Linked DNA regions of Homo sapiens: all the other regions are linked to region 2. The links come from fine-mapping of genetic effects on gene expression. A gene starts in region 2. Each other region holds a variant in brackets. All regions are shown on one strand. Distances are from middle to middle.

Region 1 (5,218 bases), 160 kb before region 2:
TGGATAGACAGATGGATAGAAAGAAAAGATTATCCAGTATTTACCAGAATGAGGCCTCAGAAGTAACAAAGCTATGGAAGAAAAAGCAAATACGATGTGTTTATGTTATACGCAGGAGTAAAAGGAGGTGGCAACTTTGCTGGTTTGGTCTGTGATTGAAACAAAAATTCTCTTGAAAACAAACCTCCAGTCAGTTTTGCTTCTGCAAAGCGAACAGGCTTATAACCTCATTACAAAGATAGTCCATGTCACCCACTCTCAGCCTCCCGGGCCATTCAGAAGATTTGGTCCAATGAACAAAGAACCTAGATAGGAAAGCGGCAGCAGGAAGAGGACAGAACCAAACCCTCTCAAAAAGCTATAAAAAAAAGCTCCAAGTTCAGGGAGGAAAAGTAATCATCCTGTAATTTGCTGTTCACTAATGGAATCTATTAATTTATAGCCACAAAAGAATCAGCTAATTTGTGGTTAATGGTGTTTAAAAGATAAACAACATAGATTAAATCTATGGAGCCCAACCCAGGTTCACCAGAATCTGTCTGCACAGAAAGCTCTGGATGGGGGAGAGATGAGCCCAGCCCCAGGCTGCGGTGGACAGTGGCGCTCAGAGGTCTGCTGGGAGCAAAAAGAGATTTGGGTGAAACAGGTAAGCCCGTCCTCCAAGGTACCACATGTAGTCCCAGAGGAGGCTTATTTACTCCATAGGTTTCCTGTAAAATTGCAAATCCTCTCCTCCCTGACACAACACCATCCCTGCTCTCTCCTGCAGGGACCACCCCACCCCACTGCAGCAGTCTCCCTAACCTGCCACATTCCTTCCCACCTCTGGCCCTTGCACTTCCTGCACATGTAGCTGGACGGCCTTTTTTTTTTTTCTTTCTTTCCTGGGAAAAATAATCCAGATTATGGAGAGTTAACTTACTGAATGTCCCCTTGGAGAAGAGGCATTTCACATAACCACATCTCAGAGATTCCTGAACATCTCCCGTGAGACTGCTCCTATCCCATTCTCAGCCCCATTTTACTGGTCAGAAAACTGAGGGCTAGAAAGGTGAAGCAGCTGGCCCAAAGCTTCACTGTACATGTGGGGTGGGTCTGAGATTTGAATCCATGTCTTTCTGCTTCCAGAATCTGAGGGCTAGACCAGCATTTCCCAAAACTTACTTTTTTTTTTTTTTTTTTTTGAGATGGAGTCTTGCTCTGTCACCAAGGCTGGAGTGCAGGGTCGGGACCGCTGTTCACTGCAACCTCCGCCTCCTGGGTTCAAGTGATTCTCCTGCCTCAACCTCCCGAGTAGCTGAGATTACAGGCATGCGCCACCATGCCTGGCTAATGTTTGTATTTTTAGTAGAGATGGGGTTTCACCATGTTGGCCAGGCTGGTCTCGAACTCCTGACCTTAAGCAATCCGCCCGTCTTGACCTCCCAAAGTGCTGAGATTACAGCCGTGAGCAACTGCGCCCAGCCTTACTCATTCTCATAACAACATTTTTGCCATGTCTGCTACCACCTATATGTATGATATTTGTTTAAATGGACTCCCTGCCACTTTTATTTTTTGTTAATTTTAGTTTCATCCTGAACAATGTTATCCAGGTCTGATAAGTTAATAACATAGTTGCTTCTAACATAAACTTGGAATAAATACCTGACTACTAAGATAAACATGTGCCTGTGTCCTGCCTTATAATCTTATAAACCTCAGTGGTTCAAGAACTACACACATTTTAACCACACATCCCAAAAAGTCATAATCACACGGTGTGTGTCCCGCTCACCATAGCCTGCATGCACTATCAAGTTCTAGCCTCTGTCAACCTTCTCCTGATATAAGCCACCCTTGAAAATGCACTGGGCCAGGCGTGGCGGCTCACGCCTGTAATCCCAACACTTTGGGAGGCCAAGGCGGGCAAATCACGAGGTCAGGAGTTCGAGACCAGCCTGGCCAACATGGTGAAACCCCATCTCTACTAAAAATACAAAAAATTAGCTGGATGTGGTGGCAGACACCTGTAATCCCAGCTACTGGGGAGGCTGATGCAGGAGAATCACTTGAACCCAGAAGGCAAAGTTTGCAGTGAGCTGAGATCAGGCCACTGCATTCCAGCCCAGGTAACAGTGAAAGACTCTGTCTCAAAAAAAAAAAAAAGAAAGAAAGAAGAAAGAAGAAAGAAAAGAAAGAAAGGAAGGAAGGAAAGAAAGGAAGGAAAGAAAGAAAATGTATCAAAAGCCCTCCTTTTTCCTGAAGGCCTCTTGACTCCTCCAGCCCAAAAGCGCCCCTCCCTTTGTTGACAGCTAGAAAATTCATGCCATGAGCAAGCCACAAAAAGACAGGATAAAAAACAGGATGTGGCTTTTGTTTCTTCAAGTAGACTGGAAGATCTTGGAGGATTATAAAAAAAAATGAAAACAAA[A/G]CAATTCCTATACCTTGAAGTCTAAGCTCTGGGAAACAGAGATGGACGCACACAGCAGGTGCTCAATAAAGCCTGGGGGAAATGATGGATGTGGACACAGTACAGAGAGGGGGCCAGGCAGCACTTTCATGGCTAGGTTGGGGCCGGCCTGAATCATCCTTCCTCCTTTGCTAACAAGGGTCAAAACTTCACCTGGGGATGCTCCCTCCCTTCCCACAGCCCAGGGCTCCAGGATGGGCCTGGGACACAGCCTGCCCAGTCCATGCAGAAAATCCCCCTAGCTATTCCCATTGGTTCAGAAAGCGGGTCTGTTACCCAAACCTGGCTGAGGGAGTCAGGCCCAGCATTTTTGTTCAAATGGATGAGGATGGAGCAGCTCTTTCTTGCCAGCTTGAACCTGGGAGCCGTGGGCCTGGAAACACTGTCACCTTCCTGCTCCCACAGGGAGCCTGGGAGTTAGAACCCTTGTGGAAGAGGCAGAGACATAAGAGAGGGCAGGGCTTGGCAATGTGATTTGAGATCCTGGATCAAGACATTCCTGAAACAAGTTCTACCCTTGGATTTTTTTAGACAAACTTTTTTTTCTTGGCGTAAGCCTTTTTGAGTTGGGTTTTCTGTTACTTAGGCCCAAAAACACCCTGGAGGAACCCCTGACTAGGAGCCAGGGAAGCAGACTCAATTGTATCTGGGGTCTAAATGACCCTGGGTGAGTCATTTCATCTCACATGACCCTGCCCCAAAGAGGCCTTCCCTGACCATTCTTTCAACAGCAGCTTCCATCCCTCCCTACCGCTCACTTCCTTGTCCAGCCCCATCATTGCACAATATCACATTCCATATTCATGACCTTGTTTGCTAGTACTCTGCCTCCCTCACTGCGGTGTCCTCAGAACTCAGAATAAGGCTGGCATGCAGACACCTTCTGTAAATATTTGTTGCAGGATCTTGCCTCGGTTTCTGCAGCTGTAAAATGGGAGAGCAGTGCTGCGTTGTCCTCAGTAGCCTGCCATCAGGGCTGCATTCACTTCCTCCTTTCATTGCTGCCACCCAGGCCTCCGGGAACGTGGCACAAGGTCTCACCCAAAGGCGCTGGAGTGCCTCCCAGAAAACTACCTTTCCCACAGAGTAGAAAGTTTTATGATTTTCCTCCATTTCTTCCTCTGCCTACACAATCTCATTGACTAGAAAGTCCCTCTTGATGTCTAACCCAATATTTCATGCTGCAACCAAAGTCTATTTATGTGCATCTTTTCTGAGTTCTGGAGTTCAGCAGCTGGAGTGCTGACTTCCAGACATTCCCAGCCAAGTAAGAACACAAAAGAACCAGTTTAAAGTGAGAAGAAATCCAGTGAGAAAATAAAAATTCCTTTACCTAGGAGATGCCCTCATTTCCTTCCCATGACCAGCTTCTGACTCGTCAGAAAGCTCTTTACTTGTCTCCACACCTATGAACACAGCTCTTCCAGAGATGTGGGTACAGAAGATGAGAGTAAAATAAATAAACTATCTGTTTAATCATTCTTATTGCCAAAACAACGGCTGAGCCAAAATACCGAGGCTCTGATTCATCCCAACTGACGTCCGTTCTAGGGAGGAGGCAGGAGGCAGGGAAGTAAGAATTTTTAAACCCGTTTTCCAGATGAATTCAGAGGAGGCTGGGACGTTCCACAGCGCCAACCCCACAGTAAGCAACAGAAGCGAACCACTTTCTCTTTGTGGTCGAGGATCTGTCTTCTCTTCATTTAAATAGGGCAGAATTCAGTGGCTCGCACCTGTAATCCCAGCACTTTGGGAGGCTGAGGCAGGTAGATCACTTGAGGTCAGGAGTTCGAGACCAGCCTGGCCAACATGGTGAAACCCTGTCTCTACTAAAAATACACAAAATTAGCCGGGTGTGGTAGTGGCGCCTGTAATCCCAGCTACGCAGGAGCCTGAGGCAGGAGAATCACTTGAACCAGAAGGTGCAAGTTGCAGTGAGCCGAGATTGCGCCACCGCGCTCCAGCCTGGGCGACAGAGCAAGATTCCATCTAAAAAATAAATAAATAAAAATAAAAATAGGCCGTCGTTGTGGCTCACGCCTGTAATCCCAGCACTTTGGGAGGCTGAGGCAGGTGGATCACCTGAGGTCAAGAGTTCAAGACCAGCCTGGCCAATATGGTGAAACCCCGTCTCTACAAAAAATACAAAAATTAGCCAGGCTCAGTGGCAGACACCTGTAGTCCCGGCTACTCAAGAGGCTGAGGCAGGAGAATCGCTTGAACGTGGGAGGTGGAGGTCACAGTGAGCTGACATTGCGCCACCACACTCCAGCTTGGGTGACAGAGGGAGACTCCATCTCAAAAATAATAATAACAATAAAAATAAAAATAAAAATAAATGGGGCAGAATTCAAAGGAAGATACACAGTACCTAGGATGCAGATTTCATCATTCATTCACTCACTCATTCATTCATTCAAGAAAATGAAAAGCCTCGACTGAGCACCTTCCCTGTGCCCCAAGCTGGCTGTCTTCCCAAGTCACCTTGCACCTTCCCCACCCCTCTGGGGGAGGAAAGTCAGGAATCATCCACCCATTGGCTGAGTCGGGAGGCTGAATGACGTAATTGTTGAAAACATTGTTCCTAGTCTGTTCTTTGTCTTTTAATTTTATTTGTGGTGTTTCTTGACGTCCAGGGATTGTTAATGTTCATATAGTCAAATCTTTATGTCTTTCCTTTGAGGACTCTGGCCTGAGATACCTAGAAAGGGCTCCATGGGGAGTAACATTTAGAGCCATATTTAAGGCCATACGTCATGAGCAGTC
Region 2 (5,218 bases):
ACGCTTCCCCCAGATGCGAGTAGGGGTCGGCCGACTGGGAGTAGGCCAGCTGCTGGTAGGGAGGGGGAAAGTAGGGTGGCGGCTGATATTCGGCGACTCCAGTGTGGGAGAGGGGTGGCGCGGGGCTGTAGAGGTGCTGCCCGGCGGAGGAGAGGTGGGGGACCCGCGGATTCCCATTGCTGCTCCCGTCGTGGCGATCCTGGAGGGAAAAAAAAAAACAGGAGACCCCGTTAGTGCGAAACCCCGCTACTGCGAACTGGCCGGCATCGCCGGGCTACGCAGAGGGCCCCGGGGGACCAACCGCACCCCGCCCGGCGGGGCTTGCCCAGGGTCGGAAGGTACCCGGGGGCAATGCGCCCCGAGGATTTCGTTGTAAGCAAAGAGTGCGGGGAGGGAGGAGAGTCTGGTGAAAGACCTGGGGGAACGAGTTCTCAAAGCCCGGCGGCGAAGGTCTAGGCGCTGCTCCCAAGCCCGAGGCGCTTGGAGGCGCCAAGTCCGAACCCTGGGTCTTGGGCCAGAAAAGTCCGTGGCCGGAGCCCGGGGCGAAGGAGCCAGAGCCCGGGGCGAAGGAGCCGGACGCCCGGTGCAGAGCTATCTCGTGGAGCCCGCCCATGACGCAGGGACTGCTGGAGGTGGCAGCGCGGCAGGCGCGGATAGAGTGCGCGGCGCGGGAAATGCGCACCTCCCCCGCCCCCGGGACCCTCCCTTCCACGCCCTCGGGACAAAGACCTCCGAGCGGGCGGCGCTCGGAAAGCAGGGCCCGCCACCCTGCGCCGCCCTGGGAAGTGAAGAGGGAGCGCGCGCACAGGGCGGCCCTCCCTGCTGGCCGGGCCCAGCCGAGGGGAGTAATAAGTGGGGGCGCCCTGCACTGCCAAGGGCAGTGTTCTCGCACGTCGGGGCGCAGAGGGGGCATGAAGAACCCTGGAAATTGGGCAGCCTTGCCCGCGCACGTTCCCTCGCCCCTGGGCGGCCCGACTCAGTTTCTAAAGGATGCGTCCCCATCTGCCCAGGGGTCTCGGGGCGCCGGGAACCTGGAGGAACATGGCGCTGTCGCCTCCTGGCGGAAGCGCCCGGGCCTGCGGGCAGGGGCAGCCCTCCAGGGCCCGGAGGCGCAGTGAACTCCCGCGAGTCCGTAGCCCGAGCTCCGCGCTCCCGGCGCCCCTGAGCTCGCCTAGCGCTGCCTGCGTCTTCTTCCTCTTCCCGCTCGCCGCCTCCTTCTTCCCTCCCACTCTCCGAAACTCTAGCTCAACCTGTCCGACAGGCTGGAGCACTCGCGAGCTCTTACGGCCCCATCTGGCCTCGGGCACCCCCACCACCACTCCCCAGCCCCCACTTCTTTTGAAAGCCAAACTTCGGTTGTTTTCGTGCTTCCCCGAGGAGGTAGCGGGGCAGGTGACAAGCCGGCCTTGGAGGAGTGTCCGCCAAGGTGTCGCTAGCAGGTAGCCTCATCTGACCCCTTTGGACAGAGACTTCGTGCGTAAAAGCCACGTCTGAGGGTTGCAGACGGGGCACTTTTCCGAGAAAACGGGAAGCAGGGCTGTTTGCCGCTTAGGAAAGCGCCCGGTAAGCTGTGTGGGTGGGATTTGCCATTCTCTTTCCAGGCCTCGTTCCCGAGGGGAGGCTATTTAGGAAAAGGCCCTATACAGGAAAGGGGCCCCGCAGAAATGGACTAAGGGGTGTCCGGAGAAGTGGATCCCGTCCCACCGAGAGGCCAGGGCTCCTATGCCCTCGTCCCCGACCTCGGTCCAGTGGCCCCTGCCTCCCGGACTGTCCTCGGCGGGGCGGGGCTGCACCCCGGAGCCCCAGCTCACCTCGCAGTCCTCTTCGTACTTGACATTATCGGTTATTTTCCACAACATGGCGTCCGGCGTCCCCCAAAACAGTCGCCAGTTAAATCCAGGATCCCCCCAGCCCCCAAGCGGTAAATCCAAAATCGGGGTCACGGTGACCAGGCGTCTGCCGCCGCCCCCGCCGCGCGCGGGCCTTGCTGTCCGGGTCACTGGACACGCATCGGCGGCTCTGCGAGCGTAGATGCTGCCGCCGCGAGTGTCAAGACCGCTCCGCGGACGGGGAAAGCCGCGCCCGAACAGTGTGTCCTGGCGATAGCCGGGGGACCCGAGCGCCTTAATGAGAAGGAAATTATCATAACTCCTCCCCGGGGGCCGGCGCGGAGGCCCAGGCGCCGGGCGGGGCGGCCCCCAGCCAGTCCCAGCCTAGCTCCGCCCCGCACCCGGGCCTGGCGCAGCGCCGAGCCCCACGCTGTGAGGGACGAAGCGCGGAGTCAGTGGGCGGTGCCTCGTTGACAGCCGAAGACCTGCGAGGCCTGGGTCCCCCGACGCGCCTTCCTTCTGTCACCTCCACCGTAAACACACCTGAGATTGGCAGAGCTGGGGGAAGGGATCCAAATACTGAAACCCACCCCTCTTTCGCCTAAACGGCCTTCACTCGTTCCTCCAAAAGACGGATGTCACCTGGAGTTAAGAAACTGCGCATTTGGGGAGCGACTCAACAACCGGGGTCTCCTCATCTCCTAAAAACACATCCCATCCCACCTACACCCCACTGAGGCTTAAGGTCTGAGCTGGGATCATGCAGCTGGAGCCCCAGTGCGCCAGAGACGCCCAGTTCCCTCCGTGGGCACAGCGCGGTCCCGGCCCCCGGGCGGGAGGAGAGAGGAAGGGACTCCTGGGGAGTCTGCCCCAAGGGCCGCAGAGGCAGCAGACGGTCCTACCCGCCCAGGAGTTGCGGACAGCGGCGTCTCGCCGCTGTCGCCCGAAGTGGCATCTCCCGCGGCTGGCTGAGGCCAGGGGGAACCCGCGCGCACTGGACCAGCCCAGCGGCCCGGCCCTGCCCTGCCCTGCGGAACGCCGGCTCTGCAGCTGCCTCTGGCGGGCCGGTCACTCAGAAGCCTCTACTCGCCCTGGGAAAGAAGCGCCGGGCAGGAATAAAACCCGAGCGCCACGGGTAAGGTGAGGGTGAGGAGGTGCAGGAAGTTGGGAGAGAGCCTGCAGAGAGCTCTCGACTGGAGAGGTAGACACCCAGGTCCCACATGTTTAGACAGAAAACGAAACTTCCTTCCACACAAACGCTGCTTCCCTCTCCCCTTCGGTACTTGCCACCCAAACTTGAAAGCAAAGTGCAATACTAATTTTTAAAATTTAAACTAACGAAATTCTTTGGCCCAGTTATTATGCAGCAATTGACTTTCATTGTAAGGGGAACATCGCTAATTCTCGAGGGCGTATTTGTTGGGACGCCCCAACTGGCTCCCTGGGCTGGATTTAAACATTCTGTGGGGATTAGAGGACAAGACTATTTCTATTTGATACTGAATACGATTTTGCAATAATCAATGCCTATCAGTACGGTGTCCGCACCTGCAGTAGACATGACTCTCCCATCCACGGAATGGCGGCATCCACTGCCTCGCTGTTCCTTCTCGGGTTCGTTTGAACTTTAGCATTTATTTAGACCCAGGTGGGCCTAAAAGAAAATAATAATAATAGGCGTCCTCCAAGGGAAACTTTCCCCCGGCCTTAGACAGCAGCCAAATCCCAGGTGATTTTCCGACCGGACGCGGGAACAAAATCTGGAAGTTGAAACCACTGAGACTTTTCGGCCAAGCATATCTGCAGGGCTTTGCACTAAGGAGAACAGTGCATAAAAAGACACACAGGACCCTGACACTTCGGTCCCAAAACAGGCTTCTGGGGGTAAAATAAGTTACCGCAGAAGCAGCGCTCCTGGTATTAGCGGCGGGGGAGGGGGACACCTGCCAGAAGCAGAAATTAGACCCAGGCCCGCAGGCACTCCAGAGCACAGGTCCAGGAAGATGGGTCCTAGACTCGCCAGAGGTGCGGCGCCTCTTTCGGGCGCCTGGGACTCCCTGACGGGTGCCGCTGGGCTGTCCGACATTCTGGGCCTTCTAGCCCTCGGTTTTATTCTCTGACCCGGCCTGAGGTGCAGCTTGAACAAGCTGTCTTGTCTGTGCTGGCAAGTTTACCTCCTGCACGCTGGGGCCCGGAATGGGCAAGAAGGTGCTCATCCCCCATCCCAGGCCCTGGCTCTCCTTTCCCACAGCAACACTAGCCAAAGCTGCCCGGAGGAACCGATATGCCTCCCCGCCTGGGAGCGTCTACGCAGGAGGCGAAGGGAGCCGATGGGCACTGAGGGCTCGCGCAGCACCGTGCCGTGGGCCCAAAGGACCCAGAGGATCCGGAACCGCTTGGCAAAGGCCATTCATTCCCAAGGAGCTTCCCTGGACCCCGGCGCTGCCCTCTTTCCAATGGGTAAGCGTTCGAACTGGAGCGCAACCTCCGCGCCCTCTGTACGGAAGGCAGCTAGAACAAATCCTCTGTCTTCTCGGCACGGGAGACCCTTCCCCAATACGCACATTCTCGGCTTCTGGGCCGGCACCCAGGCACGCGCGCGCCCTTGTGAGGAAGCCTCAACCCTTCCTTGACTTCAACTTTTCTGCTCAGCAGAGCCGGGAACCGAAGGCTCCAGCATCCAAGACAGCCTCCCTCCAACGTCCCCGCCCCTTGCCCACGTGAAGACGCGGACTGCGTGGCCGCGCTCAAGACAGCCGGCACCGGCAGAAGGGGACCCCTCTGGAACCCCGGAGGCCTCGCAGCCGCCTGGAGAAGAGGATGGAAGGTTGTCGGGGGTTCCCCTCTACCGCCCCCTAGGGAGCCTAAACTCACTTACTCCCTGGAAGCCCTGGACCCACGCCCCTATGAAACCGCAAACCAGGCCTCTGCAACAGCGGGAGCGCCCCAACAGCGCGCCACTTCCAAAGAGGCGCGAGGTGGTGCCTTTGGAAACAGGGCTCCCGGCCCCAGGCCTGAGTCATCCGCCACCCCTGCCCCCACCCCAGACGGAAGAAGGCGGCCAGGCGGGTAGAGCAAGATTCGGGCAGATCTGCGACTCCTCTTCCCGCCCCAGGGAGGGGACTCCCGAGCAGAAGATGGAGGCCCCCGAGCGCTTTCGCAGACTCCGCGCCACGCGCCGGACGTTTGTCCCGCCTCTCGGGACAACGTGAGCGCCGGTAGGGACCTCAGTAAGTGGCAGACCCGCCAGGATCAAGCAAGGTGGAAAGGCCGGGGCCTGCGGCAAACCCAGGAGGAGGGGGCATTCACGCCCGCCACCCTCCCTTCGCGGCACTGGCACCCACTGGACCGACACTGGCGTCAAAGGGCACCCTGAAGTATCTATGTCC
Region 3 (5,218 bases), 320 kb before region 2:
GTCGGGCACAGAAGATGCCCAGGGCACCCGGGCGCGTTTGGTTTACATATCCACTCATTTCACTCCGGGAACGTCCGCAGAGCTTATCCTTCACGCCAGGTGCAGGGCCAGGGTAGGGGACTGTCACGAGCAAGCTGGGTGGGATCCCTGCCATCCAGGGGCTTCGTGGAAGACGATGAGCCCGCAGATTTCACCAGGACAACTTCAGATTGTGACAAGTGCTATGGTCAAAATGGGCGGGATGATGCGTGGTAGCCACGGCGCAGGCCAGTTTTCACCAGGACGTTCACGGAGGGCTCTTGGGAGAGGGAGCTTTGGAATTGGACCTGAAAGTTGGGGTTAGAAGGCGGCCTGGTGAAAGGCAGCCTAGTGGGGGCTGTTTGGGAAGAAGGAATGAGAAGACTTACGGGTTTCCCAGGGAGAAGCCATCCTGACAGTGAGAATGGAAGTGAAGTGGAGTCTGGGTTTGGGGTTTCTCAGACTAGAAGGCATTTTCAGAAACAATCTAAGGACTACGGTTTTTCTGCCATAGGCAATTTCAAAAAACTGTAATCATTCATAACATAAATAGGAAGTCCAACAAAGTTCTGAAATGTTCCACTACTTGGAGACCTTTTATATATTTTTATTTTTATTTCTTTATTTTTATTTATATTTTGAGACGGAGTCTTGCTCTGTCACCAGGCTAGAATGCAGTGGCGTGATCTTAGCTCACTGCAACCTCTGCCTCCCGGATTCAAGCGATTCTCCTGCCTCAGCCTCCCAAGTAGCTGAAATGACAGGCGTGCGCCACCATGCCCAGCTAATTTTTGTATTTTTAGAAGAGACAAGGTTTCATCATGTTGGCCAGGATGATCTCGATCTTCTGACCTCAAGTGATCTGCCCGCCTCAGCCTCCCAAAGTGCTGGGATTGCAGGCATGAGCTATGGAGCCCCGCCATATATATTTATTTTTAGAAGTAGGGTCTCTGTCACCTGGGCTGAAGTGCAGTGGTGTGATCCTAGCTCACTGTAACCTCAAACTCCTGGACTCCAGGGATCCTCCTGCCTCAGCCTCCCTAGTAACTGGGACTATAGGTGCACCACCACCAAGCCTGGCTAATTTTTATTAATTTTTTATTTTTTATAGAGACAGGGTCTTGCTCTCTTGCCCAGACTGGTCTCCAACTCCTGGGCTCAAGCAATCTTCCCATCTCAGCCTCCCAACGTGCTAAGACTACAGGTGTGAGCCACGGTGCCCGGCCGAGACCTTTGATTTTGGAAATATCGCTCATCAATGCATTTCCCTATGGTTTTGCTCTGTTCCTGGCTGTCCCTGCTTTGCTGGTGCCTTCACTGTGTGCACTGCAGCTGAGGAACCTGGGACGGGTGTGGACACTAGGGTGCCGGGAGAAGAGCTCCCTGCATGGGTGAACGGGCCCAGGGCCCCAGGACTGCACACCTGAGAGAGGCTTCGGCCCAGCCACTGGTGGGAGATGCGCTGACACCACGGGGCTCCGATGCCATCTGTGGAGAATGAGACATGCCCGAGCCAATTCCCACCCCGGATACCTCGAATGGCTCTCCCCTCATCGCTAGACAAGCCATCCCCTTCAGCGGGAGAGGAGCGAGGAGTGGCCATGACTGACAGTCGCGAGGCAGGGCAGTGGCCCCTGCGCCAACTCATTCACAACACCTGTCATCACGTGCTGTCAACAGCATGCTCAGTTATGATTTAATTTATGCCTCGCGTGTCATGAGCCAGCACAGACTGTTTTTAAGCCATCACGTGGACTCCTGTTGATGAGCCGAGTTTCTCTGACAGGTGTTTGGGTTGGACTGACTTGGCGGCTCCCTGAGAGCCTTCCCGTCCCTCGTCCTGGGTGGAAGTGGGCAGTGGGAAGCCCCAGGCTGGGAAACTAACAGCAGATCTGGGAGGGGAAAGAGAGGACGGGAAAGGGCCACCTGTGGTGTGGGCAGCTCCACCACGCACCGGCCACTGTAAGGCAGAAGCTCTGACAGTCCACTGAGCTTCCAGAACTGCCTTCGTTCCTCAGCCGTCTGAGTATGAATTTCTGTACTGTGCTTAGGGCCAGATTCTCACTACGTCTCAGCCTCGCGTGGTGGCTGTAAATAATCCTGTGCCTATATGCACGGAGATGTCAGTACATAATTGATCTTTTGAAAAATGCCAGCCGATGGAAGTGTGTGATTTACCTTTGACAGACTGTGCTCACATTTGAAATGTAGAACGGGAGACTCTGTTCTCCTAGCTCGGCGCCGTAGTTTGCAGATGCTCATGGGAGGAGAGCATTGGAATGCCATGCTTTTACAATTCTAAATGAAACTCAAACGTTCTATGTTTCAATTTG[C/T]TTCCTTTTTGCAAGAACCGATTTTCTGTTTTACATAGTTTTTGTTTTTTTATTCTACCCAGTGTTGCAATCAAAGAAGAATTTTTGCACCAACTTGTTGTCACGTGATGGTAAAAGACGGTAAGGAAATATACACACTTCCCTTAGATTATACGAGTTTACAAATGAAAAGAAAAGGGAATCCAGAAAAGTAATCAACTTGCCCAGTGCCTCAGTTATGCTGGTCATTTCCCAGAGCTGCTCTAACACTTCACTAAAAGTTTCATAGACTAAAACAACACTATTGTATTATCTTCCCATTCTGGAGGCCAGAAGTCTGAAATGTATCTCATTGGGCTATAATCAAGGATCAGCAGGGCTGTGTTCTTTTCTGGAGGTTCTAGGGAGAAGCCATTTTCAGCTTCTAGAGGAAGTTCTGCCCACCTTGTTGCCTCTCAGGACTTGCTGCAACAACTGGACATCGGCTGGGCATGGTGGCTCATGCCTGGAATCCTAGCACTTTGGGAGGCTGGGGCAGAAAGACTGCTTGAACCTAGGAGTTCAAGACCCGCCTGGGAAACATGGCGAAACCCCATCTACACAAAAATTAGCTGGGCACAGTGGCATGTGCCTGTAGTCTCAGCTACTGTGGGGTGTAAGGGGGTGGTGCTGAGGTGGGAGGATCACTTGAGCCCGGGAGGTGGAGGCTGCAGTGAGCTGTGATCACGTCACTGCACTCCAGCCTGGGCAATAGAGCAAGACCCTGTCAAAAAAAAAAACAAAAAACTGGACATTCTTGGCAGTTGACAGTGACATTGGACATCCAATACTCACCAACATCTGGTCTTTTAAATTCAAAAGGAATAAAAGTCTTGAGCCTGTGGGTTGAAAACCAGACCCGAGCCATCCTTGTTTGTCACAAGTCCTCCGGGAATGTGTGTGTTTGCCTTTCCTTGCTCTTCCCTTGAAGAATGCCGCTTGCACAGTTCCTGTTTCCAATTATCAGTGGCCAGTCCAACCACCAAGCCTGAGTGTATCAGTTTCAGACAGATCATAATTTTTGAAAAATACCACTTGCTATGAGTGGCATCAAGAAAAATCAAGAAAAAGCTACATTAAACAGACAAGTCAATTCTTCATTTAGGAGAATGCTCTTTAACACTGCACAGAATGTTTCCGATGTTCAGAGAGTGGTTTTTCCATTGCAAACTGGCCAACTCTTGCTTTTCTGCTTTTTAATTTTTGGTCAATCTGGAGCCACCATTTGCAAGTGAAAACCGCCCTTTGTTTGAGCAGGGGCAGGTTGTAGGGCATACTGCCGTTTCATCTCTACCCCAGAGCACCTCGCACTCAGGCAGTGGTGTGGAGGACCGAAGCCATGTGTGCAGGAACCACACCAGAAGACCAGATATGCACAGAGGGAGAAAGTCCTGAAGGTGGGGTTGCCTGGCTGGAAGGCCAAGTTTGTGATCTAATCACTCCTTTCTTCATTGTGTGAAGATGACACTCTCTTCATCTCTATCACTTTCTTTCTCTTTCTTTCTTTCCTTCTTCTTTCTTTCTCCCCTTCCCCTTCTCTCCCCCATCCCCCTCCCCTCCCCCTCCCTTCCCTTCCGTTCCCTTCCCCTCCCTTCCTTTCTTTTCTTTTTTCTTTCTTTCTCTTTCTTTCTTTCTTTCTTTCTTTCTTTCTTTCTTTCTTTCTTTCTTTCTTTCTTTTTTCTTTCTTTCTTTCTCTCTTTCTTTCCTTTTCTCCTTTCTCTCTTTCTTCTCTTTCTCTCTTCTCTTTCTTTCTTCTCTTTCTCTCTTTCTTTCTTCTGACAGAGCCTTGCTTTGTTGCTCAGGATGGAGTGCAACAGCACGATATGATCACGGCTCACTGCAGCCTCCATCTCCTGAGGTCAAGTGATCCTCCCGCCTCAGCCTCCTGAGTAGTTGGGCCCACAGGCACATAGCACACACACCCCCAGCTAGTTTTTTTATGTTTATTACTTTTGATATTACAAAAGAAAGCATTCATGTTCTTTGTGAGTATCTTTTAAAGAGAATGTGAAGCTTATGAAGAAGCAGGTACCTTGAGAGAGATTTTAGAGGCTGCGTGTAGTCCAAAACCCAACCCTGCAAGCCACTTTCCCTGTAAACTTCGTTCTTCTTGTCTGTAAAATGGGGGATAATAATGGCCTCTGTTCCTGGGAGTTGCTAGGAAGATTAAATCAGATGCATCTGAAGACTCTGTACATCACAGCTCTCAACAAATGGTAGTTTTAAAAATCTTCTCATCATATTATTTCAGATTGGAACTGTGAGTACCCTTTTAATTACCCTTTTTATTTCTTAACAGGCCAATTTACTTGGTTACTATGTATGCATTTGTTACATTTTTGCCATTTATGAGAACAATTCCACAAACCACATTCAGTGATTTAAAAACCAGCAATAATTCAGCAGAGCTCCGTGAATTCCAGCTGAGGGGTTAGGGGCTTGGGGGAAGAGATTTTGTTTGTTTGTTTGGTTTCATTCATTGCCCATGTCTTCTAAATAAGTATAACCAAGAATTGTTTTGACCATTTCTGCTTCAGGATTCGATTTAAATACAGATTAACCTAGAGGGCAATTTCAGCAAATATCAGAATCACACACTGCTTGACCTGGAAATCCCATATCTGAGGAGGCACCCTGCTGAAACGTGTCATTGACATGTGCCTGGCTACACGTTTTCTGCAGCACTCCAATAACTGGGGACGGTGTGAAGAAGAAGAAAGAATACGCAGTGAAGAGGATGTGTGCTTCCTCCCTGCAGAGAAAAGAGAAATCTGATCTGGGTACCAGAAGCAGCAGGACACAGGGTGGTTAACACCATGGGCTTCAGAATCAGACATTTGCAGACTTCA

Direction of the effects. Alleles are on the strand shown, and positions count from the first base shown. SD is a standard deviation of normalised expression in the study named.
For the expression in fibroblasts of the gene that starts at base 2,098 in region 2, allele A in region 1 goes with a lower level than allele G (moderate effect, 0.41 SD a copy in GTEx).
In carriers of allele C in region 3, the expression in testis of the gene that starts at base 2,098 in region 2 tends to be lower than with T alone (small effect, 0.22 SD a copy in GTEx).

What was found. PIP is the estimated chance that this variant, and not a neighbour inherited with it, causes the effect.
Region 1: its variant is the best candidate, but not a certain one, in a credible set for the expression of TFAP2C in fibroblasts (GTEx, PIP 0.73).
Region 3: its variant is the best candidate, but not a certain one, in a credible set for the expression of TFAP2C in testis (GTEx, PIP 0.72).

The regions. Positions count from the first base shown.
Region 1 is chr20:56,786,498-56,791,715 of GRCh38, reverse strand. No RefSeq gene overlaps it. Among named protein-coding and RNA genes, the nearest start is that of TFAP2C, 160 kb to the right of the region's middle. RefSeq lists enhancers at 1,837-2,595, 2,596-3,355. The variant A/G (reference allele first, on the strand shown) is at 2,414.
Region 2 is chr20:56,626,186-56,631,403 of GRCh38, reverse strand. It overlaps TFAP2C (transcription factor AP-2 gamma), which reads right to left and starts at 2,098. Exons shown (of 7, transcript NM_003222.4): 1 at 1,812-2,098; 2 at 1-199. The coding sequence starts at 1,859. RefSeq lists silencers at 1,777-2,071, 2,128-2,187 and an enhancer at 3,551-4,311.
Region 3 is chr20:56,949,687-56,954,904 of GRCh38, reverse strand. No RefSeq gene overlaps it. Among named protein-coding and RNA genes, the nearest start is that of BMP7-AS1, 260 kb to the left of the region's middle. The variant C/T (reference allele first, on the strand shown) is at 2,352.